Homo sapiens: one gene and its partners. The protein of the gene in region 1 purifies or fractionates together with the protein of each later gene. This does not show direct contact. Each region holds a gene or a part of one and is shown in the gene's direction. Other genes may lie near its edges. The genes, in order: CPLX2, DEGS1, ANKRD13C and SCCPDH.

Evidence for each region.
Region 2: the proteins of CPLX2 (region 1) and DEGS1 purify together in Homo sapiens (affinity purification with mass spectrometry; 2 studies listed by BioGRID and IntAct, with this or other methods). This does not show direct contact.
Region 3: the proteins of CPLX2 (region 1) and ANKRD13C purify together in Homo sapiens (affinity purification with mass spectrometry; 2 studies listed by BioGRID and IntAct, with this or other methods). This does not show direct contact.
Region 4: the proteins of CPLX2 (region 1) and SCCPDH purify together in Homo sapiens (affinity purification with mass spectrometry; 2 studies listed by BioGRID and IntAct, with this or other methods). This does not show direct contact.

What each region holds. Positions count from the first base shown.
Region 1 is NC_000005.10:175,874,578-175,881,577, forward strand, and holds part of CPLX2 (complexin-2), read left to right. Parts: intron 1-4,074; 5' UTR 4,075-4,162; coding exon 4,163-4,193; intron 4,194-4,330; coding exon 4,331-4,506; intron 4,507-5,270; coding exon 5,271-5,468; 3' UTR 5,469-7,000. UniProt on the Homo sapiens protein: Negatively regulates the formation of synaptic vesicle clustering at active zone to the presynaptic membrane in postmitotic neurons.
Region 2 is NC_000001.11:224,178,922-224,186,408, forward strand, and holds the start of DEGS1 (sphingolipid delta(4)-desaturase DES1), read left to right. Parts: upstream 1-4,318; 5' UTR 4,319-4,415; coding exon 4,416-4,497; intron 4,498-4,758; exon of another isoform or gene 4,759-4,910; intron 4,911-7,487. UniProt on the Homo sapiens protein: Has sphingolipid-delta-4-desaturase activity. Converts D-erythro-sphinganine to D-erythro-sphingosine (E-sphing-4-enine). Catalyzes the equilibrium isomerization of retinols.
Region 3 is NC_000001.11:70,295,434-70,302,921, reverse strand, and holds part of ANKRD13C (ankyrin repeat domain-containing protein 13C), read left to right. Parts: intron 1-2,013; coding exon 2,014-2,158; intron 2,159-6,660; coding exon 6,661-6,792; intron 6,793-7,488. UniProt on the Homo sapiens protein: Acts as a molecular chaperone for G protein-coupled receptors, regulating their biogenesis and exit from the ER.
Region 4 is NC_000001.11:246,719,194-246,727,460, forward strand, and holds the start of SCCPDH (saccharopine dehydrogenase-like oxidoreductase), read left to right. Parts: upstream 1-5,215; 5' UTR 5,216-5,229; coding exon 5,230-5,419; intron 5,420-7,698; coding exon 7,699-7,811; intron 7,812-8,267.

The sequences.
Region 1 (7,000 bases):
GGTGATTGGGACAAGGCATACTAGAGAAAAAGATGGGTGTGTGGGGAAAGCCAGGATGAGACTGATCTTTGGACAGACAGAATTTGAGATTATCCATGTGACAACATCCAGCAGAGAGTTAAATGTGCAGGTGTAGGGGAGGGGAGGCAGAGAGAGGGAGGTATCTGTGGCTAAAGAAGTGCACTAAACCAATAGGGGTGGACGAGATTCCCAAGGGAGACAGAGGGGCAGGAGAGGCAGGAGGGGAGAGTTTGTTTGGAGACCATCTTCACTTTAAAGGAAAGGAAAGGAGTCAGCAAAGAAGAGAGAGAAGACCTATCTGAGAAGTAGGATGAAGACCACAAGAGTGCTGTGTCATGGAATTCAGGAGGAGATTCCAGAAAGCTGGAAAAGGTGGGGGGAGGGAGTCAGCAGCAGCATGTGATTCAGCAGAGGGATGGAGGAGGATGACGGCCGTGAAGACCCTCTTGAATCTGGCAATGGGAAAGCCTCTGGCGACTGATTACCGCAGTTTCAGGGCTCCTGCAGAGGCAGCAGAGCTCTGGTCTCACAGAGAGGTAGGGCTTGACTGGGAGGTGAAGATGTGGAGATACCATGTGGAGATCACTTCATCACAAAGTGAGAGGGGTGGGATTAAGGGAAACGCAGAATTTAGGGAAGGAGTTAGAGAAGGGAGGGAATAAAAGCAACATATGGAGAGGGATGGAAGATGTGAGGAAGAGGGAGTGGTGAGGTACAAAGAGAGGGAATCCAGGGCACAGGTAGATGAATTGGCTTCAGCCAGGAGAGGGCTTCTTCCTCAGGAGCTAGAAGGAGGGGAGGTTACAGGAGCTCCCACTCACTGACATTAATTGTTTTGATTATTACAACCATTTACTGAGCACCCAGCATGTGCAAACACATCCCATAGAGTATTTCTAAAATTTCAAAGTGCCATTATAATTCTCATTTTATAGAGAAGATCAAGTATCAATGAGGTTAGGTCAATTACTCACTATTGCACAGCTTAAAAAGTGGCAGATTCAAGATCTGAGTCAGGCATGCCTAACCTCAGAGCTCAGACCCCTTATACTTTCGCCCGTGAAGTGGAGGGAAAGTCACCTGCTGAGAAGGAAGAGGCAGTAGCATTTTGGGCCTTAAGAAAAGGAGAATTGGTTGGGAGAGTGTAGACAGAGTGAACAGGAGACTGCTTAACAGCTCAGAGGTCCATGCTGGGATCAGGCAGCAGGATTTTTGGGCAGACTCGGGAATTTCAGATAAAGAATCCCAGCAGGCTGAAGAAGAGCTACTTAGAGCCACAGGGATGTAAGCATTGAGAAGACTCAGTGGTGAGTAGAGGTACTTTGCAAACTGGTGGAGGGGTGGCAGTGGTAAACAATGTCTGATGAATGCATGCTGGCAAGCAGAGGTGGCCGGAGAAGGTGATAGTTTGGTGATACAGAAATGGCATGTTAAGTTTGAGGGGTGCCCACAGACATCCAGGAAAGGGTATCCAGGAGAAGGTAAATGTGTTTTTTTACTTATTTATTGCTTATTTTCCTACGCATGTGTGCATATACCCCCACACTCACATACACACATACATACCTCAGAATGTAATCTGCATGAAGGCAAGGCTTTGTCTGTCCTGTTTCCTATAAATCCCCAGTGCCTAACACATTGACTGGCATATAGTAGGTGCTCAATTAATACTTGCTGGATGAGTGAATATAGAGGTCTAGGTGTCATCAGTGTCAGTGGTCATTAAAACCCCTAGAATGGATGAGTTCTCCCAGGGAAAGATTAGAAAGTAAAAAGAGGCAGGGGCTGAGGTCAGAGTTATGGGGAAGAGACAGGAGGAAGAAGAGGAGTCAGAAAAGGCAAAGGAAGAGAAGAAAAGAGGAGAGGAGAGGAAACAGTAAGGGGAAGCAGGGATAGGAAAGAACTGAGTCACAGAACCAAGAGAGAAGGAGGTTTGAGGGTACAGTGGGGTTGTCAGCAGTTCAAATGCTGCAGACTGCTTCAACAGAGGCATGGGAGAAAGGGCCTGGAAGATCATCTGATCCAGGAGAGAGACGTGTCAGAATCACCCAGCAAGTTAGGGATGAGGCTGCAACTAAAGCCCGGGTGCCCTGCCTACCAATTTGGAACATCTCAAATTAGAGCCCTGCATCTCCCACTGCCACCTGGTAATTCCTTGAGCTCTATGTAAACACAGAGTAGGAACCCAAGAGTTTCTGAAATCACTTGATTATTAAATTGTTCATTTCCTGTTCTTAGAAATGAAGTTTTTTCACAATGTATTAAATCGAACGAAAACATCTTGACTGAGCTGAGCAACCTGCAAACTCAGAATTCGGGGTTAGGAGGGTGGGTTCTCTTGCATTTCTGAGAAAGCATGGAAAGCCTGTTCCTTTTTGGCTTGTTCCACAAATATGTAGTCGGCAACGGCTGACATTTTATGAGTTCCTGCAACACCCCAGGCACTTGACCGGTATCATTCATTCTCCTTCAAACGTCCATTCAAGGGCAACCTTAATACTCCCCCATTTTGCAGGGAGCAAACTGAAGCTTGCCCAGGGACCCCCAGCCAGTAAGTATAGCTGCCTGGATTTTGAACCAGGTGTGTCTGATGCCAAAGCCCCTGGGCTGTTTTGTGTTTTGCTTTTTTTTTTTTTTTTTCCTACACATCATGACTTTCTCTTCCCAAAACAACCTATCAGATGAGATGGTCTGATCACGTAGATAAGCTCTTGGGCCCCATATCATGAAATAATCTCAGTCTACCGATATGACTTCTCATCTTGAGAGAAATGAAGAAAATCTATCAAAGAACAACCAGTGACCCTGAACTCAGCCAGGCTGCAATATCCAGCCTTGAACCCAACAAGGTTGCAACATCTGCCACCCTTTCCCAGGAACCCTTTTTCTTCCTTGCAAGGCTGTGTGGGACAAAAGGCCTTGGGGAGCAGGCCTGGCCTCAGCTTACCATGAAGCTACTTCACACTTTGGATAGCTCACGGATGTCCCCTCTACACTTGAAAAGAGATCTGTGTCTGTTAAAGAACAGTGGAACTGAATGGTTAAAATACAAAGAAAATCTCAAGTTAGAGCACTAGGGTTCAGCTTCTCAGGGATGTAGGGGGAAGATGGTAAGGAGGCCAAGGGGGAAGGCTCTTCCTCCCCCACCACCTCCACTGGAAGAGTTCCACTTTTACATATTTTGCATATTGAGAATCCCATTAAGATTTTATTTGGAGAACCCTTCTGAGGCAAAAACATAATAAAAAATATAATAAAAACTGAAAGCCGGTGATTTAGGAAGAGGAGTAGGGTGCTAATGTCTGCCGAGTGCCTGCAAGGCCCGTGCTAGGTAGTTTAAAAGCCCTAAGCCCCCAGAAGATTATAATGTCTCCAACACTCCCACGTGAAATTCAAAATAAAAATCGATATTAAGCTATAAAACATAAAAATTACACGTACATTACAATAAAAATAACGTATTTTCCATTTGTCTAATTTCAAAAGTCAGGATCTGTTTATCCAAGCTGGCTGTTCTCATTTGCTCAGCTGCCTCCGATTGGCTGGGGCAGTAACACCGGCTGGTCTTTTGATGGGCTGATCCAGTGGCCCAGGCTGGGCCCCCTCCAATCTCCGCCGGAGCCGGGGAAAGGTGGCATTGCCATTTCTCTCTTAGAGAGGAGGAAACTGGGGACTCGAGCAGGTTAGGGCCTTGCTGAAGGTCCCATGGCAAATAAGGAAATGACGGTGGCGTTGGAAACCAGATCTGCCTGACTCCAAGTTCCAGGCTCTTTCCAATGCTCCTGGCTTCAATCAAATCTGAACAATAGGGTCAAGATGAAGGCTTTAAAATAGGGACCAAACCGCTTTCAAAAAGCTATTTGGCAGCACCTACGTGTCTGCCCAGTAAATCGCTCTCTTCCATCTCCTTTCTCCTCCAGCAGGGCATTGGGTCTTGACCTCAGAGCGATGGGTGCCTGGTGTCTGAACCAGGGTGAGGCTGCTGTCTGCCTAGCTCCCCCGCCCTGCCTGTGCAGAGGCCTCTCCCATCTGACTCCCAATTCTCTTCTGCAGGTTGTCACATCTTCCCAAGCCAGGCCAGCCAGGAGCGCTGCATGCAAATTCTGCCGTGGGCTAAGGCACGCTAACCAGAGCCGGCGGCATGGACTTCGTCATGAAGCAGGCCCTTGGAGGTGAGGTCCAGCGCCCCTCCGCGTGTCCTCAGCCGGTCCCACCCTTGTGGGAGGTGGCCTCGGCCCACCCGGCCCCTCTCTCCCCAGCCCTGACCCCTAGCTGACCCCGCCCTCTCCTTCCCACCCCTTCCTCGTAGGGGCCACAAAGGACATGGGGAAGATGCTGGGGGGAGAGGAGGAGAAGGACCCCGACGCGCAGAAAAAGGAGGAGGAGCGGCAGGAGGCGCTGCGGCAGCAGGAGGAGGAGCGTAAGGCCAAGCACGCGCGCATGGAGGCGGAGCGGGAGAAGGTCCGGCAGCAGATCCGAGATAAGGTCAGCTCCGCCCGCCCGCCCGTCCTGGGGAGGGCCACAAGCGGGTAAAACCGGTCCAGCTAAAGCCCCTGCTGGGGCTCCCCTGGATCCCAGCTCTCACCTTCGCCCTAGTTCTGAGCCTCACTCTTCTCATCAGCAAAACGGGTATCACAAGGTCACCTCCCTCAAGGGATCCTTTTGGGGATTAAATAAGAGAATGCGCGTAGTAGGTACTCCAAGAGGGTGGACCCTACGGTCCACCATTTCGTACTGCAGATCTTTGGGACCAAAAATGAGTGCAGTTCTGAATTTGGGAATGTTCGAAAAATACCACAGTGTCCTAAGCACTTTGTGCTGTCAGCTGTCACTCCCAGCGGGTCTGGGGCTGCCACCCTACTCCAGACAGTCCAGTGCATGTCTGTTAGTGCGTGCAATAAATAAAGGCTAGAAGTAGTCTTCCATTGGTTCAAGTCAGATTCGTCACCAAAATTTGGCTCAAAATATATGGGCAAACGCCATGTGTTCAGATCTTTGGGGGTTTCAACACAGCAGGAAGTTCTGATGGGCAGGTGTTAATTTTAAAGGAAACCCCACGTATGGTCTCTCCCACTGAGGACCAGGCACCATCCTACAGGGAAGACACCCTTATCCCCACTTTACTAATGACAGGACTGAGGCTTGGGAGGCACTCCTGGCCACCTCAGCCAGTGCTGCATGATCATGAGACTCCTGCTGTCTCCTTGCCCACCCCGCTTCATGCGCGTCTCTGCCCTCCCCCTCCCCAGTATGGGCTGAAGAAGAAGGAGGAGAAGGAAGCAGAGGAGAAAGCAGCCCTGGAGCAGCCCTGCGAGGGGAGCCTGACCCGGCCCAAGAAGGCCATCCCTGCGGGCTGCGGGGACGAGGAGGAGGAGGAAGAGGAGAGCATCCTGGACACGGTGCTCAAATACCTGCCCGGGCCGCTGCAGGACATGTTCAAGAAGTAACCAGGCCTCCTGCCCCAGCCTACTCCACCTGTTACTACTTCTTTTTGGTTCTTTCTTTTCTTTTTATTAGGTTAAGTCTCAATTCTGAAGGGGAAAACCTCAGTTGGCCTCTGCCCCTCTTCCCTGGCCAGGGGCTTCTCCCCCTCAGCTCTCCCTCACACCTCCCTTCATCCCAGGGTATCCACCTGCACCCCACTCCCAAGTAGCTTGAAAAAGGGAGGACAGTCTTTCCCCAGCAGGGGTCAGGGGGGCCCCTCAGGAAGCCTAAGGTCGTGCTAGTGTGGTGACCCCCATACATTCCTCCCTGCTCCCCACTGCCAGGAGGACCACTGTCCCCAGCCAGCCAAAGTAATGACACATTCCAGCCCTGCCCAGCATGCTGACCTTTGGCCTCTAACCCTCAGTGGGCCCCCAGGTCAGGGCAGGGGCACTGAGTGGCCTGGCTCTGAGGAAGGGAGTCAGGGGAAGCCTGTCCCGGGAAGGCCCAGGCTGAGAGGCCCTGGCTCTGGCCAGGCTGGGATCTGGGTGGGAGGCTGGGGCTCTTCTTCTTCCATCTCCTTGGTGACACCCAGCCCAGGGGCACCCCCTTCCCCAGCCCCCACCTGGAGAGACATGGCCCCTGCCAAGCTGGTCCCTTCAAATGGATCCTTTGTGGACTTTAGCTCATTTGTGGAGGAACCCCAGGTAGGGACGCCCCTTGTTCCTCACCCCCACCCCACTTAGGTCCTGGGCCCCCACTGCCAGGCTGGGCCCAGCTTGCTCAGTCAAGGGGCTGCCAGGCCCCCAGAAAACACTTGGAGCCATCGGGTAGCGATGGTCTATGCCATGGGGAACACCTCCATTGGTGTGGCCAAGCTGCCCCCATTCCTATCCACCCCTCTCCCCACCCCGTCCTGTCCATGCGCTTCCAGGGCCCCACGGTCCCCAGGAGGACGCTTCCTGGCCAAAGCCCCAAGCCTTTGGTGAGAAGCCAATTCCCACTTGACAGAAGGCGTCCATCCATTCATCTCATTGGCCAAGGACAAACTCTCCTCTGGGACGTCTGGGACTGGCATTTGTCCCCCACTCAAATTATCAAAGCTTTCTGCTCAGTCAGTTGTGTGGGGATGGTGAGGGAAGAGGGGTCACATGAGGGAGGAAACTGTATCCATGCATGCATGATAATGCGTGGCAGAGACTGCAACAGGGATTGTGTGTTCAGAGATCATATGCATATGTGTAGGGCTGGAGCGTGTGTGTGTCTTGAGATTGTGTGTGTTGCAGTCATCATATCTATGTGTTACAGATTGTGTATGTTAGCCTTGTGTATGTGTGCTTGATTGAGGTGGTGTATTTGGGTTGAAATTGTGTCATATGTGTGTGCTATCCATCTCGTGTTTAGAGGCTGTATATGTTAGCTTGTGTAAGAATGTGTTTTCAAAACAGTGTGTGTATTGGGAGTGATGGGTATGTGTTAGGTATGTGATGGGTTGTAGAAGCGTGTGTTTGAGAGAATTCAGAGACATTTGAAGGCTGCTGTGTGCATGTTTGGG
Region 2 (7,487 bases), on another chromosome or scaffold:
CAAAAATAAACTGCCCTTTCAAAAATCAAGCAGATGGAAAAGGAAAAATCCATATTGATTTCAAAAGTACAGCTGCCCTCATCTGAAAACTACTTCATCTTAAATTTCCTAATATGATCATGGCTGGCTGCGATTCACCACAGCTTCCAACAGCCGACTGGAGAGCGTTTTTCCAGAATAACTAGTATGTTTGCTTCAAGACAAATTATTTGACAAGGTTAAGGAAAAGATGTGAAAGCTAGATAATCCATTAAGAATCTTTTTTTAAAACTTCAAGGCATTTTATTTATACTTCTTTTTTTTTTTTTTGAGACAGTCTCGCTCTGTCGCCCAGGCTAGTGTGCAGTGGTGCAATCTCAGCTCACTGCAACCTCCGCCTCCCGGGTTCAAGCTGTTTTCTGCCTCAGCTTCCCAAGTAGCTGGGATTACAAGCACCCACCGCCATGCCCAGCTAATTTTTGTATTTTTAGTAGAGACGGGGTTTCACCATCTTGGCCAGGCTGGTCGTGAACTCCTGACCTTGTGATCCACCCACCTCGGCCTCCCAAAGTGCTGGAATTACAGGCGTGAGCCACCATGCCTGGCTATACTTCTTAGCTTACTTTTTTATTACGCGTATATATTAAGAACTTTTAAAAGTCCAAATTAAAGAAGCATGCCTAGACATCATTAAAATAGCTATCAATGCCCATGACAATCCTGTAGCTCAAATAGTTTACTTTAGAATGTCAAAATTGATTTTGTAATAGTCAGGACAGGATAAACAGTCGCTATATTAAGACCATGTACGTGTCCCTAGACCTAGTTCTTTCCCTACGTCTGTTTTTATAAATGCTGGTGATAAACCAGGTCTGATTAATATATAATCATTTTGTGTGATTATGTAACGGCTATAATTCTAGGTTATCTTTGGTCAACCTTAAGAAAAATGGCAGTATATGTAATGACTTTTGCAAATGATCAGTGCTAATTTGCAGACTTTTGTTTAAAGAGGGTTTAAACAAAATAAGAAAATTTCATGATTACCAGTTGCTATTAAATGAATTGTAACTTTTTTTAAAAAAAAAGAATGTCCAAGCCAGGTGTGGTGCTCATGCCTGTAATCCCAGCACTTTGGGAAGCCAAGAAGGGCAGATCACTTAAGGTCAGGAGTTCAAGACCAGCCTGGCCAACATGGTGAAACCCCGTCTCTAGTAAAAATACAAAAAGTTGCTGGACGTGGTGGCACACACCTGTAATCCCAGCTACTCGGGAGGGTGAGGCAGGAGAATCGCTTGAACCCAGGAGGCAGAGGTTGCAGTGAGCCAAGATCTTGACACTGCACTCCAGCCTGGGCAACAGAGCGCAACTCCATCTCAGAAAAAAAAAATGGTATATCCAGATTCACATTTTTTTTCAAACTCTGCATTTTTCTTTCTTTCTTTTATTTTTTAATGTTTTTGAGACAAAGCCTCACTCTGTCACACAGGCTAGAGTGCAGTGCCACAATCTCAGCTCATTTCTCAGCTCATTGAAGCCTCGACCTCCTGGGCTCAAGCAATCTTCCCACCTCAGCCTCAGCAATAGGTGGGACCACAAACATGGGCCACCACGCCCAGTTAAATTTTTTTTTTTTTTTTTTGAGACGGAGTCTTGCTCTGTCGCCCAGTCTGGAGTGCAGTGGTGCGATCTCGGCTCACTGCAAGCTCCGCCTCCCGGTTTCATGCCATTCTCCTTCCTCAGCCCCCCAAGTAGCTGGGGCTACAGGCGCCCCCCCCACCATGCCTGGCTAATTTTTTTTGTATTTTTAGTAGAGATGGGGTTTCACCGTGTTAGCCAGGATGGTCTGGATCTCCTGACCTTGGAGACCGCCTTGGCCTCCCAAAGTGCTGGGATTACAGGCATGAGCCACCATACCCGGCATAATTTTTGTATTTTTTATAGAGGTGGGTTTTTGCCATGTTGCCCAGGCTTGTCCCGAACCCCTGCCCTCAAGCGATCCCCCTACCTCGGCCTCCCAAAGTGCTCAGACTACAGACGTAAGCCTCCGCACACCTTTTGGACTGGTGTGCCAGTTCACACATGCCTGTGATAGCAACTGCGTTCTGAACTGCAGGGATACATTTACTTGTCAGCACCTGAAAACTTCCTCCTGAGTTGAGTCCAATTATCAGCTTCATGTGCCATCTGCCAATCCAGATGAAACTTGGCAAATACAAAGCTGTCCTTTTCCAGGTGACACTCCCCACCTTCTTTTTCCTCCACCATTTCATTAACAACTAAAAAGCTCCTGCATGATCAGACCTGTGTATCTATCCATCATCAAATCCCACTCCTTTTTCGAGACTGGGACCCTCTGGAGGCTGACCCAGCCACGCATTTGCTAGCATGCCCTGCAGACATGACCCTCGCTGGGCTCTGATCAGCCTTCAGGCCTCCACTCCAGGTGTCACTGTTCTGTCTCCCCTCTGCTCTCACAGCCTTCTCTGCTAGATGTCTCAGCCGTGCTGGCCCTCTCTATTTCAGAAGTGAATGTACTGAGAGGGTCTTAGGGACTTATTAATAATGCTCCTGGGGTCGGATGTAGTAGCTCATGCCTGTGATCCCAATACTTTGAGATCACTTGAGCCCAAGCGTTTGAGACCAGCCTGGGCAACAAGGTGAGGCCCCATCTCTATCAAAAATTCAAAAAAGTAGCCAAGCATGGTGGTGCACGCCTGTGATCCCAGCTCCTCGGGAGACTGGGGTGGGAGGATGGCTTAAGCTCAGGTCAAGACTGAAGTGAGACATGAGGCCACCACTGCACTCCAGCCTGGGCAACAGAGCAGGACTCTGTCTCAAAAAAAACAAAACCCACTATAACCATAATACTATTATCACACTTAAGAAATTCATAATTCCTTAATATCATCACATATCCAATTGATATCTGAGTTCAATTATTTCATGTCAATGTTTTTAAACTATTTCAATCAGAATCTAAATGAGGTCAACACGTTGCAATTGGTTGGTATGTCTTTTAAACTCCTTTTAATCTACAGGTTTCTCTTTTTTTGCCTTGAGTTTCATTTATTAGAGAACCCAGACATTGTCCCATATAGTCTCCCAGAGTTGGATCTTGCTAGTTTCATCCCCACGGCCTAGTTTAACACATTCCTCTGTCCTTTCTATTTTCTTTTTTTTTTCTTGAGAGGGAGTCTCCGTCTGTCCCCCAGGCTGGAGTGCAGTGGCTCCGTCTCAGCTCACTGCAACCTCTGCCTCCCAGTTCGAGCGATTCCCCTGCCTCAGCCTCCTGAGTAGCTGGGATTACAGGCGCCTGCCACTACGCCCAGCTAATTTTTTTATATTTTTAGTAGAGACGGGGGTTTCACCATCCTGATCAGGCTGGTCTCGAACTCCCGACCTCAGGTGATGGACCCGCCTCTGCCTCACAGAGTGCAAGGATTACAGACGTGAGCCACCGCACCCGGCCAAATGTCCTTTCTATTTTCTATAAATTAACAGTCAGATCTAGGGGCTCGATCAGATTTGTGTGTGTGTGTGTGCCGTGTGCGCGTGCACAGCATGTTCTTTGACTAGGAGGCACACCTGCTTTGGTTATCTTCTTTTTGTAATCTTTAAGTTGCTCTTTGATGTAGACGTGGTAACTAATGTTGAAACAAAATTAGTTTCGTTTCAAAACCTTTCTTTCAGGAAGAGGTTGTGGTTGATTACTTCTGCGACAGGTAGATGCAAGGTTGAGCAATCATCTCTTAACAGAAGTGGTCACACTAGAATAATTCAAGCACAACAACAAATCCCACATCATCACCCCCTCTTAATAATGGTGTTTTCTTTTTACTTGATTAGCTTTTAATTGTCACGCACTCTGCATTTTTTCCCTGAGGTATTATTTCCAGAAGGCAGCGAAATATGACTCAATGGCTAATTTGCTTTTTAAAAATTAAACAAAACTTAGGCCAGCTGCCATTTAAGAAGGGCTCCGGGGCCTCCAGACTCGGTGTGACCGTAGCCGTGCCCGGTGCTCCCCTCGCGGAGGCGTTAGGGCGGCAGGTTTATCTCACTTGAGACCATTCCTTCCTTTTTCATCTTCTCCGGGCTCCGGCGCAGCAGGCCGCAGGGGCGGGCACTCGCAAGAACGCGGCATCCTGGATGGTGGCCGAGTCACCGAAGCTCAGAACCCCGCGTCCCAGAATCGCTGAGAGCCGGCCCCGCACGGGGGCCTGGGAGCGCCACGCGCCCTCCACCCAGAGAGGCAGGCGGGCGGGCCGGGGGGGGCGGGGCCTCGGGACTCCGCCCACGCCTCCGTCTCCTCCGCGCTCCGCCACAGCCGGCCGACACCACACCAGCCGGGGAGCCGCCGCCGCCGCCGCCACCTCTGAGCAGCCGGCTGGGAGCGAGAGCCGACAGCTAGTCTGCAAGCCACCGCTGTCGCCATGGGGAGCCGCGTCTCGCGGGAAGACTTCGAGTGGGTCTACACCGACCAGCCGCACGCCGACCGGCGCCGGGAGATCCTGGGTGAGGGCCAGCGGGCGCCCCGTTATGTGCGTGCGTGGCCTCCCGGCGCCGGGGCGCGCTCTCCCCTCGCGGGCCCTGCGCGGTCGTGGGCGCCGGAGGCCCGTTAGCAGCCTGCTCCCCGTCGCGTCCCGTCGCCGCTCGGGCCGCCAGCCCGCGGGTCAGCGCGGGAGAGGCTGGGCGAGGAGCGGGGGGAGGGACGGGTCCTCGGAGCCGCGCAGCTCCGACCCTTCCGCGAAGAGGCGCAGGCGCGTCCCCGAGCGCGGGAGTCCCCGCCAGGCCCACGCCGGCCGGTTGGGGCGAAGGGTGTCCCCGGCTGTGCCAGCCTTGAGTAGATCTTTTCGCTAGAAGATTCCTGTGCCCTCAGGTGGGCGCCCTTTCCTCTCACCACTCCCTCTCCTCCGGAGCGGGCCGAGGTGAGCGGGTGCCGGCCTTGGGGCTGCCTGAGTGCTAGGCAGGGTGTGGTCCTGGGCATCCTTGGGCCTACCAGCGAGCCCTGCTCAGGGTGTCGGGCGCCGGCGGGCAGTACTGGCGGGGGCGGCCGCAGTCCCGGCCTTGGGCCCGTTAAGGGGGCCGGCGTCCCTCCATATGCCCCCCGGGGCTTCTCGGACTTGATGGGCCCTGGTCGGTTCACGCCGCTTGTCCCATTGATCCTCACGACAAGCCTGGGACGTAAGAACGGCGGATTCGTAGGCATTTTTCATCCATCTCGGTTTTGTGGATGAAAAGACTGAAAATGGAAGACTTGCCAAATAAGGAAAATATGTGGCGTGGCCTGCTGGTCCCCTGACAGCTAATTGAGAGGCCTTAACTCTCCAGAGGATTCGGGCCTTCTGTGTTACATAGAGAATGCTCATCTCTCCCAGGCTACTCCTAATATGCTAGGGATTGTGTGGAATGCTTTACAAACATTACCCAATTTCATCCTCTTGGTAATTCTACTTGGTTGGTATTATCGCTGTTTTAAAAAATGAAATAAGAACGCGTGACTAAATGCTAGGGGGATTCTAATGCGCATTCGGTTGCCTCTTCCAGAGCACGTGTTTGTTTTTTGTTTGTTTGTTTTTTGAGACTGCACGTGTTTGTTTTTTGTTTGTTTGTTTGTTTGTTTTTTGAGACTGAGTCTCACTCTGTTGCTCATGCTGGAGTGCAGTGGCGCGATCTCCACTCGCTGCAACCTCTGCCTCCTGGGTTCAAGCGATTCTTCTGTCTCAGCCTCCCGAGTAGCTGGGATTACAGGTTCCCACCACTACGCCTGGCTAATGTTTGTATCTTTTTTAGTTAGAGACGGGGTTTCACCATGTTGGCCAGGCTTATCTCGAACTCCTGACCTCAGGTGATCCGCCCGCCTTGGCCTCCCGAAGTTTTGGGATTACAGGCGTGAACCACCGTGCCCGGCCAGAGCACGAGCTTTTTAACCTCTGTTGAGGAAACGGGGACCGGTCACGGTAGCTCAGGCCTGTAATCCTAGCACTTCGGGAGGCTGAGGCGGGAGGATCGCTTCAGCCCAGAAGTTTGAGACCATCCTGAGTAACATAGTGAGAGCCCCCCGTTTACACACACACACACACACACACACACACACACACACTTTTTTTAAATTGAGGAAACGGTGAGTTGAACATGAGCAATTATTCCTTATATATAGTATTTCCTTAGTTTTTCTTCTCAACATTCATTTGCCCAGTGAAAAGAAAAAGCAAGTAGCTGGGACCACAAGCGCACACCACCATGCCTGGTTGATTTTTCTATTTTTTGTAGAGATGGGTTTCTCCGTGTTGCCCAGGCTGGTCTTGAACTCCTGGGCTCAAGCAATCTGTCCGCTTTGGCCTCCCAAAGTGCTGGGATTTTAAAGGCGTAAGCCACTGCACCCGGTAACTTTGGGTTCTTGAATTCCCTTCCTCCTCTTCTTCCTCCTCCCCTACACTCCATTAGAGAAAGGGTCTTGCTTTGTTGCCCAAGCTGGAGTGCGGTGGTTGTTCACAGGCATGATGATCACTGCAGCCTGGGCTCCAGTGGTCCGCATACCTCAGCCTGCCAGTAGCAATTTGTTTGGCACATCACTTACACATACTTGATATGAGATAGCATGATACTTTTTTGAGACGGAGCCGCACTCTGTCACCCAGGCTGGAGTGCAGTGGCCCAGTCTCGGCTCACTGCAACCTCTCCCTCCTGGGTTCAAGCAGTTCTGCCTGCCCCAGTCTCCCGAGTACCTGGGATTACAGACGCCCGCCACCATACCTGGCTAAGTTTTTCTATTTTTATTTTTAGTAGAGACAGGGTTTTGCCACATTGGCCAGGCTGGTCTCAGATGATGCGCCTGCCATGGCCTCCCAAAGTCCTGGGATTACAGGCGTGAGCCACCCTGCCAGGCCACATATGATATATTTTATCAATGCCTTATCTACATGTTACATAGGAATAATCTAGCGTCCTACCTGTGTAAAAACCAACTCTGGAATACTGAAACTGAGCTACTTAATATTCTGAAAATCAGGACGGGTGTGGTGGCTTTTTTTTGCCTGTAATCCGAGCACTTTGAGAAGCTGAGGCAAGAAGATCGCTTGAGGCCAGTTCAGAACAGCCCCATCTGCACGAGAAATTAAAAAATTAGCTAGGCGTGCATGCCTGTCCCGCTACTCAGAAGGCTGAGGCGAGAGGAACACTTGAACTCAGGAGTTCGAGGCCAACCTGGGCAACATGGCAAAACCCCATCTCTACCAAAAAAAAAAAAATTTAATTAGCGGGACATGGTGGCATGTGCCTGTGGTCCCAGCTACACAGAAGGCTGAGGTGGGAGGATTGCTTGAGCTGGGGAGGTAGAGGCTGCAGTGAGCCGTGATTGCCCCACCGCGTTCCAGCCTGGGCAACAGAGTGAGACTGTCTCAAGAAAAAGAGATGAAGGAAGTGAGAAGGTGCTGATTGATACTTACCTCACACTGAGCCTTTTTTCCCCCCACAGACTTATCACTGAACCATTTCACTGGGAA
Region 3 (7,488 bases), on another chromosome or scaffold:
TGTTTTAGCCCATTTCTTCTTTTATGTAGAGCATAACATTCCCTGATAGCTGAAGCTTGGAGCCCAAATAGTGCACTTACATATAAAATGATCTGTTCCTTTTTGGTATTATCAGGAGCCCACATCTTATAGAGATAGGGGAAGAGTCCCTTTTAATACTATTTTCTTTTTTTTTTTTTTTTTTTTTTTTTTTTTTGAGACGGAGTCTCGCTCTGTCGCCCAGGCTGGAGTGCAGTGGCGGGATCTCGGCTCACTGCAAGCTCCGCCTCCCGGGTTCACGCCATTCTCCCGCCTCAGCCTCCCAAGTAGCTGGGACTACAGGCGCCCGCCACTACGCCCGGCTAATTTTTTGTATTTTTAGTAGAGACGGGGTTTCACCGTTTTAGCCGGGATGGTCTCGATCTCCTGACCTCGTGATCCGCCCGCCTTGGCCTCCCAAAGTGCTGGGATTACAGGCGTGAGCCACCGCGCCCGGCCAATACTATTTTCTTTTAGGACACATGCTCAAGCAATGATAGGTGTTATTTAATAGTAAAGCTGAATTCTAGCTTCTGGGAGTGGACTAAAAGCTAGAATTCAGCTATAAAGCAACAGGCAGCCCCCCGCCCCCCCGCCGCCCCTGTGTGAGTTGATGAGTTACTTTTTTAGGGCTTCTTGATACATAAGGCAACCATACTTCCCTCTTTGCTCTGGCTCACCCCTGTTTTCCTGGCAGAATTGTCAGTAGTGTCACTTTCATTCTTAGATTTATTAATTTTGATGATAAATTCTATGTAACCCTAGTTATTATTTTCATGCAGCATGTGAGGCATGTTTTATTTCTGTTTTTCCTGTCTAGGGAAACCAAGAATACCAACTCACTTTGCCTTGTCTGTGATGAGAACTGAAAAACCTACAGAGTAATGAATTCTTACAGTTGCATTAGAAATTCAGTAGCCAGGGTGGATTTTTCACGGAGCCTTAAAGGAGCTTCCTGGGGATGTGATCAGCATCCTTTGACAGCAGGGCCAACCAGTTTCTTGGCTTTAGGACTGTGTGTTTTGAGCAGCCATTAGCTGGGGTGATCCTGATCTGGTGATTTATAAAGCCATGTGCAAGACTGAAGCACGTCAGTGTATTGTAAACTTTTTATTTTCAGTATTTTTCCTAATTTCGGCAAGTAGTGCTTTGTGGAATACTGTTTGAGACCAGCGCATTAGGCTAGACCATGACAGGTCCAGGTTACCAAAGAGAACAGTAAACACACAAATGTGTGAATCCATGAGTATTAGATACAGAATGATCTGTAAGGTTTCCAGGGTGTGGAGATATTGGTTGGGAAAGAGAGTATTAGTCCAAATCTGAGAAGTCAAATACAAAGGCCAAGAATTTAAATGGTTTATCAAGTTGAAGGATAAAGCAAGGTTTGGTATCAGATGGTTAGGCATAAGGTTACGGGTGTATATCAGAAGAGGAGTTCTCAATTCCAAGAATGTGGTCCATCCATTGCTGTCTGGTCTTAAATACTCTGCTGAGCTAGCAACCTGGTCTTAAAGGGATCGAATAATGTCAGACAGGTCTGTGTTCCTTTTCTTCCTTCCCCGTTCACTTTTATTGAGTAGCTACAGTAAGGGAAATGGTAGGAAACAAGGGAGCAGAAAGGGAAATACCCCAAATATGGGGAAACATCTTTTTTTCTGGGTCAATGAAATATGTGTGTGTATATATATATGTGTGTGTGTATGTGTATATATATATATATATGTGTGTGTATATATATTCAGAAAATATATATGTATATTCAGAAAAGTGAAATATAGCTAAAATGGATTATATCTTTAAGTAGTTTTGTTTTTTAATAGAATATTTTAAATTTAGTTTTTATCTATAAATTTGTTTTTATCTATAAATTTGACTTTGCAATATGGTATTAGCATCTTGGTTTGAGTTTAAAAGGAACAGCTTATTTAATTATTAGTGAAGTTTTATCAAAATTATATTTGTCAGAGTTTATCATCTACCCATGTTTCACAGGCTTGACACAACTCTCATAGACTTTACTGACATGAAGTGCCAACGAGGGGATCTAAGCTTCATTTTCAATGGGGATGCGGCGCCCTCTGAATCTTTTGTAGTATTAGACAATGAACAAAAAGTTTATCAGCGAATACATCATGAGGTGAGCATGTTGTCTTATCAATATTCCTTTAAATCATTAAAAAAAAAGTATAGGTTTTTAGCAAAACCTCAGTATAATTTGCTTAAAAGCTTAAGGTATAATTGAGATGGTTTGTTCCTAAAGCTATAGTTTCCTGACCACTAGCTTTCTTTTCTTTTTTCTTTTTCTTTTTTTTGAGACTGGAGTCTCGCTCTGTCACCCAGGCTGAAATGCAGTGGCGTGATCTAGGCTCACTGCAACCTCCGCCTCCCAGGTTCAAGCAATTCTTCAGCCTCAGCCTTCAGGGTAGCTGAGACTACAGGCGCCCGCCACCAAGCCCGGCTAATTTTTGTATTTTTAGTAGAGGCTTGGTTTCACCATGTTGGCTAGGTTGGTCTCAAACTCCTGACCTCAAATGATGCACCCACCTCGGCCTCCCAAAGAGCTGGGATTACAGGCGTGAGCCACTGCGCCTGGCCTATTTTCATTTTTTATATTTCTATCCTCTGGTCTCCATCTTGACCGGTCCATTGAGCCTGCTGAGAATTCAACTGATTATCTCCTAGATCAATGAACTCCAACTTCTCTTCATTCTCATTTATAGTTTTCATTTGTTGAACCTGTGCTGGACCTTTACCATGTATTATCTTTTTATCTTACCTTCTTTTAATGTTGTTGACCATCTTTATTTTATCTCCTTAATATGAATACTTCTTTTGGCTCTGTCTGCAGTCTTACTTTTCCTAACTCTTTGGCTACCTTTCCTTTCTCTGTCCTTTCCCTCTTCAAGTACGACATGATTTTCCTTCTCTCATGCCATATCTTTGTGTTAAAAAACCATTGATATGCCCTTGATGTGGTTCTCATTTTTACAAACTGCCAGAATAATCCCTTCCATTCCCACAGTCCTATAGGTTGATGATTTACAAATATATGTTTGTGTCCATACAGTTCTGAGTAGAGGCTTATCTGTTTAAATGCCTAATGGATATCATGTGTGTCTCCCAGGTACCTCAAAATTCACCTTATTTAAAACTAACCTTGCTACTTTTCCTCCAAACCTGCTCTTTTTCCTGTTTTTCCTCTTTTGAAGAATGATGTCATTCTCTATTCAGTTAGAAACCTAGGAGTTATTTTTGATATCTTTTCTTGTACTCTGTGTTTTCTCATCAGAGCACATATCTGGTCATTTCTTTCTCCTTAATGTCTCATTATTATTCCTCTTTTATTCACACTGTCACTACTGTAATTTAAACATTCATTATTTCTCAACTGGACCATTGGAAAGTCTTATAAATGATCTTCCTGGCTCCCTTCTCATCTGCTTCTAAATTATCCCACATGTTGGAGATACATTAAACTTTAGAAACACATTTATGAAACCTTAGTTACTTAGAGATACTTAAAAAGTTCCCCATTACCTAAAGAGTGAAATCTAATCTCCTTAGCACGGCATGGTTCCTTTTGTCACCTGAGTTTTGCTCACCTTTCTAGCCTTTTTCTTACCTTACTATTTTAGATACCCTCATACTGCACTCTTGGCAGTTTGTCAGATGTGCCAGGCTATTTGGGCCTTTATTCCTTTGTTCATGTTCTTTCCACTTCCTGGAATGCTTTTCTTTTTGCACCCTCACACCTGTAGGGCATGCACTTGGTGTTACTTTCTCTCCCACCAAATGACTTTTGTTGTCCTTATGTTCCTATTAAATCTGGAACCATAAAGCTTCTAATGTTACATTTACTGACATGGCTTTTTTCCCTTCTATTGGTCTAAGCTCCTCAAGGGCGTGGGGTTCTTTTTGTTGTATTCCCTGTTATCTAATACAGCATCAGTACATTCTACGCTATAGGTTGGTAAACTCTTTCTGTGAAGGAAGAGATAATAAATATTTTTAGATATTAAAATATATTTGTGGGCCATATGGCCTCTGTCACAACTACTCAACTCTGCTGTTGTTAAAAGCAGCCACAGACAATATGTAAATAAATGAGTATATTCCATTATCATTTTATTCATAAAAACAGGCAGCTGATTATAGTTTGCTTACTCATATGTGAGCCTCTCAGATATTTATTAAATAATTTGACCTCTTACTTATGAAATGACAACAGGATAGCCAACTAGGCAATAAGTGAATTGGAAATAGGGTCTTGAAAGAGAAGCTAGAAGTTAAGGCTAGTAGTCCATAAGTATTTGTGGATGTCATAGTATTACCAAAGAACTGGTATTAAGGGTACCAGTTTTAAGGTATTAAGGTATGTATGTACTAGTATTAAGGTATGTATGTATACATACATATATGTATTATGTATTTTATAATGCCTACAATACAGGAAAGATAAATTTTGAGCAGTATTCCTTAGGGCAGAGAATACTTGTTGTTTATCCTAATATGTATGTATGTATAAGTAATAACTTCATTAAATGTTGAAGCAATGTAATTAATTAAAACAGCAGATCTTTTTCAGTGATGTGGTTAAGAGATAGTCTCTGATTTATATAAGAATTCTGTTCCAAAAGTTTATTGAAAATAGGATGTTTGAAATGTAAGGCAAATTTGCTCATAGACAATGGGTTATACAGTGTTCAGTTTCCAAGCTAATATATAAAATTCTACTTGATTCATAATATATTTGAAGTATAGTGTTTAACAGTTCTGTTTAACTACTGCAACCTAACTTTTTTTTAAAGAATATTGTGTTCAGAATTAATTTGGGTTACCAGGAATACATTTTCACCTATTATGGCTTTAGCAGTAACACCAAGATTTTGCATTCTTTACTTGTAGGGGTAGAGGAAATGGTACTGTCCCAGGCCCAAGCCATTGCTATTTTTTTGTTTGTTTGTTCTTTGTTTTTTTTTTTTTTTGAGATGGAGTCTCTCTCTGTCTCCAGGCTGGAGTGCAGTGGCGTGATTGATCTCAGCTCACCGCAACCTCCACCTCCCGGGTTCAAGTGATTCTCCTGCCTTAGCCTCCCGAGTAGCTGGGACTACAGGCGCGTGCCACCATGCCCGGCTAATTTTTTTTTTTTAGTAGAGACGGGGTTTCACCATGTTAGCCAGAATGGTTTCTGTCTTCTGACCTCGTGATCCACCTGCCTTGGCCTCCCAAAGTGCTGGGATTACAGGCATGAGCCACCTAGCCCGGTCGCCAATGGTATTGTTTTTGGAAATTCAGGAAGGGACTATATGGGCTGGGCACGGTGGCTCATGCCTGTAATCCCAGCGCTTTGGGAGGCCGAGGCGGGCGGATCACGAGGTCAGGAGATCGAGACCATCCTGGCTAACATGGTGAAACCCCGTCTCTACTAAAAATAAAAAAATTAGCCGGGCATGGGGGCGGGTGCCTGTAGTCCCAGCTACTCAGGAGGCTGAGGCAGGAGAATGGTGTGAACCCGGGAGGAGGAGCTTGCAGTGAGCTGAGATTGTGCCACTGCACTCCAGCCTGGGCGACAAAGCGGGACTCTGTCTCAAAAAAAAAAAAAAAAAAAAAAAATCAGAAAGGGACTCTATGTAGGTTAAAGTTAGATGGTGAAGAATAGAAAATGGGCCTCTTGGGAACCTAGAAATAAGGAGGTTTGGAGAATGAAGGCTCTAACTATTGTAAACCCTAGGGACTGTTATTATTCTCCAGACAACTCCCTAGGTTTTGCCTTTTTTCTTCCTTATAACGTCTTAAATATTAGTTAGGGTATCTTTCTTGGCCTATTATGGAATAGAATCTCATCTTATACCTGCTCACTTACTCTTCTGTACTTGATCATTTAGTCTTCTGTCCCTGAAGCAAGCACAAAACTTTCCTTTTTTCTCATATAAAAAATAATTATTGCTCAATTATTATATACCAGCACTAGGGAATATGTACAGGATAAAACCTGAAGCATGACTACTCATTAAGTTTAGAAATTACGGTTGATATTTATGGATTCCTTTCCATTTTATAAGGAATACAGAAAAGATCCTTTCTTGCTTCTTTTCCTTCCTTCCCTCTCTGCTGCTTCCCTTCTTCTATCCCTCCCTTCAGTTCTTCCTTTCTTCCACTTACAATTTATTGGGAAAGAAAGGCTCAAATGACAGTGGTGGATCTTTGCATTAAGAAGAACTAAAGTAAGATTAATCTGTATTGAAAGAAAAATATCCTTTATCTGGGTTTTTTTCTCAGATCTGTCAAGTTAATTCTTAAAGTTGTTTTTAAAAATTGCTCTATGGACTATACAGTTTTATAATGGGTAATCTAGTACTGCTTCCATTACATATCTATAACAGGATAATAGTACCGTATTTCATGTGTCCTGCTTTTATAGATTCATAATTAGTCATAATGCTAACTTAGAGAAGATATTAATATGTACAATTTAAACATCTAATTCTTTTTAGAGTAAGTAACACTTCACATTATTTAGAAACTATCCTTTTTGTCTTTAAAAATTGGTACCATTATAATTGTTGATATTTTCATATGTAGTACTAAGAACTTTTGAAAAACCTAGATTTTTATATTTAACTTTTGCTCACATCCCAGGAATCAGAGATGGAAACAGAAGAAGAGGTGGATATTTTAATGAGCAGTGATATTTACTCTGCAACTTTATCAACAAAATCAATTTCTTTCACGCGTGCCCAGACAGGATGGCTTTTTCGGGAAGATAAAACAGTATGTGCAAATCTAGATTTTTAAACTTTAAGCATTGTTCGGTATTTAATATTTCCAAAATAACGTGATGGAAATGCAAGAAGTAGCTTACAGAATTGTCTCCAAGTAGTTTTTTTCTCTCTTCCTTGAATCCAGATAAGGAATTATAATGGATGGTTAGAGTCAGAATGTGTCCTTGGAGAATTCAGGAAAGAAAGCTGAGCTCATTTGAATTCTGTGTCAGGAAGGACTCTTATTGCTAGCTGTCTTGTTATTATACAGGGAACAATGTTTTCACATGATTCCATTATATTTCTAGTGCTTTATTCGATAAGAAGACTACAAAAAGGGATAAACTTGACTCTATTTCCCTGAACCTGTTTGTCTCCCTACTTTAGACTTCTCATTTACTTAATATTTTTTTCTTGTATTCTATACATATGAGTAAGATTAAATAACCTTACATTTCTGCAACACTGTAGAATTGTTAAATCAAATCTCGGGGGAAGTTTCCCCATTAGTGTAAATTATTTCCATAATTCCCATTGTATCTGTCAGCAAGAGGTTATATAAGACTATTCAAATATATATTCGGAAAATTTTGAGGCTAGGCGTGGTGGCTTATGCATGTAATCCCAGCACTTTGGGAGGCCGAGGCCGGCGGATCACGAGGTCAGGAGTTCGAGACCAGCCTGGCCAACACGGTGAAAACCTGTC
Region 4 (8,267 bases), on another chromosome or scaffold:
GATTAAAGACTTAAATGTTAGACCTAAAGCCATAAAAACCCTAGAAGAAAACCTAGGCAATACCATTCAGGACATAGGCGTGGGCAAGGACTTCATGTCCAAAACACGAAAAGCAATGGCAACAAAAGACAAAATTGACAAATGGGATCTAATTAAACTAAAGAGCTTCTGCACAGCAAAAGAAACTACCATCAGAGTGAACAGGCAACCTACAAAATGGGAGAAAATTTTCGCAACCTACTCATCTGACAAAGGGCTAATAACCAGAATCTACAATGAACTCAAACAAATTTACAAGAAAAAAACAAACAACCCTATCAAAAAGTGGGCGAAGGACATGAACAGACACATCTCAAAAGAAGACATTTATGCAGCCAAAAAACACATGAAAAAATGCTCATCATCACTGGCCATCAGAGAAATGCAAATCAAAACCACAATGAGATACCATCTCACACCAGTTAGAATGGCAATCATTAAAAAGTCAGGAAACAACAGGTGCTGGAGAGGATGTGGAGAAATAGGAACACTTTTACACTGTTGGTGGGACTGTAAACTAGTTCAACCATTGTGGAAGTCAGTGTGGCCATTCCTCAGGGATCTAGAACTAGAAATACCATTTGACCCAGCCATCCCATTACTGGGTATATACCCAAAGGATTATAAATCATGCTGCTATAAAGACACATGCACACGTATGTTTATTGTGGCACTATTCTGTTGCGGGAAGTCAGGGACCCTAAATGGAGGGACTGGCTGAAGCCATGGCAGAAGAACGTGGATTGTGAAGATTTCATGGACATTTATTAGTTCCCTGAATTAATACTTTTATAATTTCTTATGCCTATCTTTACTGCAATCTCTAAACATAAGTTGTGAAGATTTCATGGACACTTATCACTTCCCCAGTCAATACCCTTGTGATTTCCTATGCCTGTCTTTACTTTAATCTCTTAATCCTGTCAGCTGAGGAGGATGTATGTCACCTCAGGACCCTGTAATAATTGCATTAACTGCACAAATTGTACAGCATGTGTGTTTGAGCAATATGAAATGTGGACACCTTGAAAAAACAACAGGATAACAGCAATTGTTCAGGGAATAAGAGAGATAACCTTAAATTCTGAGTGCCGGTGAGCCGGGCAGAACAGAGCCATATTTCTCTTCTTTCAAAAGCAAATGGGAGAAATAACACTGAATTCTTTTTCTCAGCAAGGAACATCCCTGGGAAAGAGAATACGCACCTGGAGGTATAGGCCTATAAACAGCCCCCCCCCAGGTGCACCTGTCTTTTATGGTTGAGACTGCAGGGGATGAAATAGACCCTAGTCTCCCATAGGGCTCCAAGGCTTATTAGGAAGAGGAAATTCCCGCCTAATAAATTTTGGTCAGACCAGTTGATCTCAAAACCCTGTCTCCTGATAAGATGTTATCAATGACAGTGGTGCCCGAAACTTCATTAGCAATTTTAATTTTGCCTCGGTCCTGTGGTCCTGTGATCTCGCCCTGCCTCCATTTGCCTTGTGATGTTCTATTACCTTGTAAAGTACTTGATGTCTGTGACCCACACCTATTCACACACTCCCTCCCCTTTTGAAAATCCCTAATAAAAACTTGCTTGTTTTTGCGGCTTGTGGGGCATCACAGAACCTACTGACATGTGATGTCTCCCCCAGACGCCTGGCTTTAAAATTTCTCTCTTTTGTACTCTGTCCCTTTATTTCTCAAGCTGGCCGACACTTAGGGAAAATAGAAAAGAACCTACGTGAATATCGGGGCAGGTTCCCCAATACTATTCACAATAGCAATTCTTGGAACCAAGCCAAATGTCCAACAATGTTAGACTGGATTAAGAAAATGTGGCATATATACACCATGGAATACTGTGCAGCCATAAAAAGATGATGAGTTCATGTGCTTTGTAGGGACACGGATGAAACTGGAAACCATCATTCTCAGCAAACTATCACAAGGACAAAAAACCAAACACCACGTGTTCTCACTCATAGGTGGGAATTGAACAATGAGAACACATGGACACAGGAAGGGGAACATCATACACCGGGGCCTGTTGTGGGGTGGGAGGAAGGGGGAGGGATAGCATTAGGAGATATACCTAATGTTAAATGATGAGTTAATGGGTGCAGCACACCAACATGGCACATGTATACATATGTAACTAACCTGCACGTTGTGCACATGTACCCTAAAACTTAAAGTATAATAAAAAAAAGATTTATCATGTATTCTTAACATTTTGTGTGCATATACATACATTGTTTTGTCTTAAATATACTCTTGTAATGTTAGGAAATTTGGAAGATTTTCCGTGTCACTATACACAGTTTTGTTTTGTTTTTTTTTTTTTAGAAACATAGCCTTGCTCTGTTGCCCAGGCTGCAGTGCAGTAGTGTGATCATGATTTACTGTAACCTCGAACTCCTGGGCTCAAGCAATCTTCCCACCTCAGCCTCCCAGGTAGCTAGGACTACAGATGCACATCACCACACCCAGCTAATTAAAAAAAAAAATTTTTTTTTTTTTTTTTTTTTTTTTTAAGAAATGGGGTCTTGCTACATTGCCTAGGCTGGTCTCAAACTTCTGGACTCAAGTGATCCTCCTGCCTTGGCTTCCCAAACTGCTGGGATTACAGGCGTGAGCCACTGTGCCCAGCCTACTTCATTCTTTTGTTTTTGTTGTTGTTGTGTGTTTTTTACCTAGAACCACCTGAATAGTCATTCTTCATTCTTTATAGCTGCACAGTTCCTATTGAATGAATAGGACACCATAATTTATTTAATAATTCCTCTGATAAAGGACATTTCAGTTATTTCTACTTTTTGTTATTACAAAGCAATGCTGCAATGACCATTATGTTAGTCCATTTTTGCGTTGCTTTAAAGGAATGCCTGAGGCTGGTTAATTTATAAAGAAAAAAGTTTATATTTTGGCTCATGGTTCTGCAGGAAGTACATCAAGTGTAGTGCCAGCATCTGCTTCTGGTGAGGCCTCAGGAAGCTTCCAATCGTGGCAGAAGGTGAAATGGAGCCAATGTATCACATGGTGAGAGAGAGACCAAGAGAGAGAAGGATGAGTGCTCTTTCAACTACCAGCTCTTGTATGAACTTATGCAGAGAGAACATACTCATTATCCTGGGGATGGCACCAAGCCATTCATGAGGGATCCACCCCCATGACCCAAACATCTCCCACCAGGCCCCACCTCCAATGCTGGGGATTACATTTCAACATGTGATTTGGGGGGGCCAAACATCCAAACCATAGCAAGCATGCTTCCCAAAAAACAAAATATATATATATATATATATATATATATATATATATATATATATATTCTGTTTTTTTAGGGTTTTTTGTTTTCTTTTGTTTTTATTTTCTTTTTAGAGACAATATCTCACTTTGTCACCCAGGCTGGAGTGTAGCTCACTATAACCTCCAACTCCTAGGTTCAAGCAATCCTCCTGCCTCAGCCTCCCAAGTAGCTGGGACTAAAAGTGCATGCCACTGTACCTGGCTCTGTAAGATTATTTTTTAGTGACTGTTTACTCCACTAGAATGTAAACTTCTTGAGGGCAGGGGCTTTATTTGTTGCCATATCCCCAGTACTTTATTCCTAGTGCCCAGTATATAGTTAAGTGTTTAATAAATACTTGAATGCTTACTACTTTACACCCACCAGATGGACAAGCATGAAGTCTGAGAATACCAAGTGCTGACAAGCACGTAAAGCAAGAGGATTCTTGTATCCCGCTGAGAGCGAAAATTAGTGCATGTGCTTTAAAGAGCAGTGAGATAACTCAAATATGGATATTCTAGCACCAACCATTTTCATTCCTGACACATATTCAATACACTTTCGCACAGGTGCTTTAGGAGAAAGGTACAAGAATTTTATTGTAGCATTCTTTGTATTATATTGCACAAAAGCACTATACAACATTGTACAAAAGCATTGTAGAATTTGGTGTATTTCTCTCTCTCTCCCTCTCTCCACACACGTATCACAGACATTTTTTTTTATTCTGAATCATTTGGGAATAAGTTCACGACATCATGACCAAATAAGAAAGCTGCAGGATTGACATTTACAAAATATTCAAAATATGCAAAACGGTACTATAATATTTATAAATACATACATATATAACAAGCAGAAAGATAGGAATAGGAATAATAAACACTAAATTCAGGCAAGTGGCCGTCTTGGGGACGCAAAAGGAAATGTGTTCAGGAATGAATACCTGGAAGCCTCGCTATCTGGAATATTTTTCTTAAGCTGTGTTGAGGGTACATATTTGTTATTGGCTGTACCTTTTTTGCAAGACATATATTTCAAAATTTTTAAAAGCATTCATTTATTCCTATTTTAATGAGAGTTTTTAAAAATCAGGAATGGGCTGGGTGCAGTGGCTCATGCGTGTAATCCCGACCCTTTGGGAGGCCGAGGTGGGTGGATCACCTGAGGTCAGGAGTTCGAGACCAGCCTGGCCAACAAGGTGAAAACCCATCTCTACTAAAAACACAAAAATTAGCAGGGCGTGGGGGCGCTCCCCTGTAATCCCAGCTACTCGGGAGGCTGAGGCAGAATCGCTTGAACCCAGGAGGCGAAGGTTGCAGTAAATCGAGATCGCGCCACTGCGCTGCAGCCTGGGCGACAGAGTGAGACTCCATCTCAAAAACAGAAAAGAGAAAAGAAAGGGAAAAAAGGGAAGAAAGAAAGGAAGAAAGCAAGCAAGCTCAAGGGTTCTCGGGGTGGGCCATCCCCGAGGCCATCCGCAGATTTTCTCGCACTCTTTGCTCCACCCCCACGTGCAACAAGGACAACCGGCTGCCGCCTCCAGCTTCCAGCAGGGCTAGAAGATGCGCTGCCCGGGGCGGCCAGAGCCCTGCAGAACAAACCGCCGCACGGAATTAGGGGCCGCCGTCCGCGCCTGCCAGGCTTGGAAGCGGACTCGCCCCCAGGGCCACCGCCCTAGGAAACCTCCCGTCGGAAGCCTCCCAAGCAAGCCGCTCACCCGCGGCTCCCGCGCGAGGCGGCGTGGGCGTGGGCGCGGCCCTGGCGCGGCGGCGCGCGCGGGGTGAAGGGAGCCCGGCGCGCTGGCTGCGGCGACGGCGGCCGTTGCTGCGCCGGGTACTGGGGTCGCTGCCTGAGGCGCAGGCGCCGTGGACTCCACCCGCCCCGGGGCCTGGGCTCGCTGTGGACTCGTCATGGCGACCGAGCAGAGGCCTTTCCACCTGGTGGTGTTCGGCGCGTCTGGCTTCACCGGCCAGTTCGTGACCGAGGAGGTGGCCCGGGAGCAGGTGGACCCGGAGCGGAGCTCCCGCCTGCCCTGGGCCGTGGCGGGCCGCTCCCGGGAGAAGCTGCAGCGGGTGCTGGAGAAGGCGGCCCTGAAGCTGGGTACAGCGGCGGGGCGGGACGGGGCTGCGCGGGCGGCTGGGCCGGGGACCCCGCATCGCCCCAAACGAGCGTTTCTCCCGCAGGGATGCGCCCTACGTGTCCCCGAGCCCTGCGTGAGGACAAGAAGAGGAGAGGGAGAGATGTTTCAAATACTGCCATAGCTTTGTCCCACCTCCTTAACTATATGTGTGTGTGCGCGTGCGTGTATAATATACACACACATTTTTTTTTCTTTCCTTCTCCTCTTTCCCGCTTTTTGCATTTCTGCCTCAGTTTGGGGAGCTCCCCTGGCGAAATGGTCAAGAACTTGAGTTGTCCCTCTCTCTGCTTCATCCTGCCCCGCAGCGGGGGCACCTGTTGAATCTGCGGGTTTCTAGATGTTTGGTCGGAGAGGAGAGGAGGGCTTTGGTCTCTTGGAGATCGGAGTCTCCCTTTGCCTCGTGTTTTGAGGACGGGAGAGCAAGCTTACGAGTTGTACTGACAGTGTCTTTGTGGCTATTCTGTTTTAGTTTCTTGTTTTGTGTGTAAGAATACTCCAGCAGTCTTCCTCTTCAGAGAATAAAAAGTGTGTATTTCTGGTTTAGACGCTTACGTATTCTCTAAGCATTCAGGTAGCATGTATTTATTGATAATCTAAGCATTCAGGTAGCATATATTTATTGATAATCTAAGCATTCAGGTAGCATATATTTATTGATTCTCTAAGCATTGAAGGAGCATATATTTATTGAGTGACGTTGTCCATGCTAAGACCTGTCCCGAGTCTGGGGTGCAGGATGGGACAGAGAGGAGACAGACACACGGATCCTGCTGCCTTCATGGCTGGGGAGACATCTGACTTACGACTCCGTAGCCTTTAAATTTGGCTATTAACTCCCGTAGATTTCCCTTATACAGACACCCATTAGAGTTCTGGAAATACTACATTCTTTCTGTTTAATCTACTTTCATACAATGCCCTGCTCGGAGTGCTTTTGTTCGTGGTTATGTACAGAAGACACCACGTAGGCTGGACTCTCCTACAGCTTTTGGTGCTGACACTACCAACACGTAATTCTGACCAAAGAGCTTTTTGGTCGTTATTTTTCCAACAGAAGTAATTTTACTATGAAAATATATGCTTCCATTTCTTTTTTCGGCTCAGCAAGATCGTACCGGTACAGCCTAGTCACTTATCATATATAATGCCCAAATCAAGTTTCATTGTGGGGGGATATACCTTCACCTATTGAAACCTGCATCACTTAGTTGAGCCAGTTAATTCCAATTATTTTCTTATGAGCCTGTGTGTGTTTATATAGCGTGTGCTTTTCACCTCAGAGTTCTAATTTTTTGTTTTTTGTTTGTTTGTTTGCCATTCTCCTGCCTCAGCCTCCTGAGTAGCTGGGACTAGAGGCGCCCGCCACCACGCCCTGCTAATTTTTTTAGTAGAGACGGGGTTTCACCGTGTTAGTGAGGATGGTCTCGATCTGCTGACCTCGTGATCCACCCTTCTCGGCTTTCCAAAGTGCTGGGATTACAGGCGTGAGCCACTGCACCCAGCCCTGATGGTTTTGATGTTAACAGTCAGTCCGAAACTCTCCATCACCTACAATTGGATCATAGTAATTGTTTAGTGGTTGATGAGAAACTTTATTTTTTTAAAGACAAGTTCTCATTCTGCCACCCAGGCTGGAGTACAGTGGCGTGATCACAGCTCACTGCAGCCTTGACCTCTGTGTCTAAGTGATTCTACCGCCTCAGCCTCCTGAGTAGCTGGTACTACAGGCTATGCCACCATGTCAGATAATTTTTTTTTTTTTTTTAGTAGAGACAAGGTCTTGCTATGTTGCCCAAGCTGGTCTGGAACTCCTGAGGTCAAGAGATCCTTGCACCTTGACCTTCCAAAGTGCTGAGCCACTGCCCCTGGCCAAGAAACTATTTTATGACATAAATTTCTTGTTGGAGAGGAAGTCTGGATAGTTATCTGCTCAGCATTTAAACTTGATTGTGAAATTGTCATGTTACACAGGGTTGTTATTTACACAACGCTTTGATTCGATTTTTTTTAAAAGGTCAGTTTTTTAGTAACTCTTAGTGTTAACTCAGTTTTCCTCATAATTTTTTCCTTTTGTATTACCTGATTAAAAACAGTTTTATCTTTTGTCTAAGCAGGAGAGCTAGCTTTCAGCATATCAGTGTATTTAGTAATTTGCTGTCACTGATTACTGTAAAAAGAAGATAAGGAAGATATAATCCTCTACTGGGATTTACTTTCCTTCATTTGTTTCTTATTTTAGGAAGACCAACACTGTCATCTGAAGTTGGAATCATCATCTGTGATATTGCTAATCCAGCCTCGCTTGATGAAATGGCTAAACAGGCAACAGTTGTCCTCAATTGCGTAGGACCAGTAAGTAATCAACCCTTCTTTGTATCAGAACAAACAATCCATTCATTTCTAGCAAAATATTCCAGAGGAACATAAGGACAGAGGACAGAATTGTTGGTTGAAGGCCTTAACCCCATATGGGGAGTTTTTTCTTCTTGCGAGGAGCAGCTGGAGATGACCAAAGTCTCCTGAGAGAGTGAGTGACAGGCTCTCCATGACGTTCTCCTTAGGGCATGTGTGCTGGCTTGTTGATTGGTTACATCTGTGATTGTCAGAATTTTCTTTCCTTTTTACTATATACCCCTTCGGTAAAAAATGTTTGAGTGTGTCTCCCTAGTATATTTTTTATTTATAAATTATATTCTTGTACTACTGGGTAAATATATTTTTTAAATGCACAAAAAGAAGACTAAAAAACGACTCATTTATTGAATAAATATTTATTGATGCTTACCACATGTGAAATGCACTATTGTA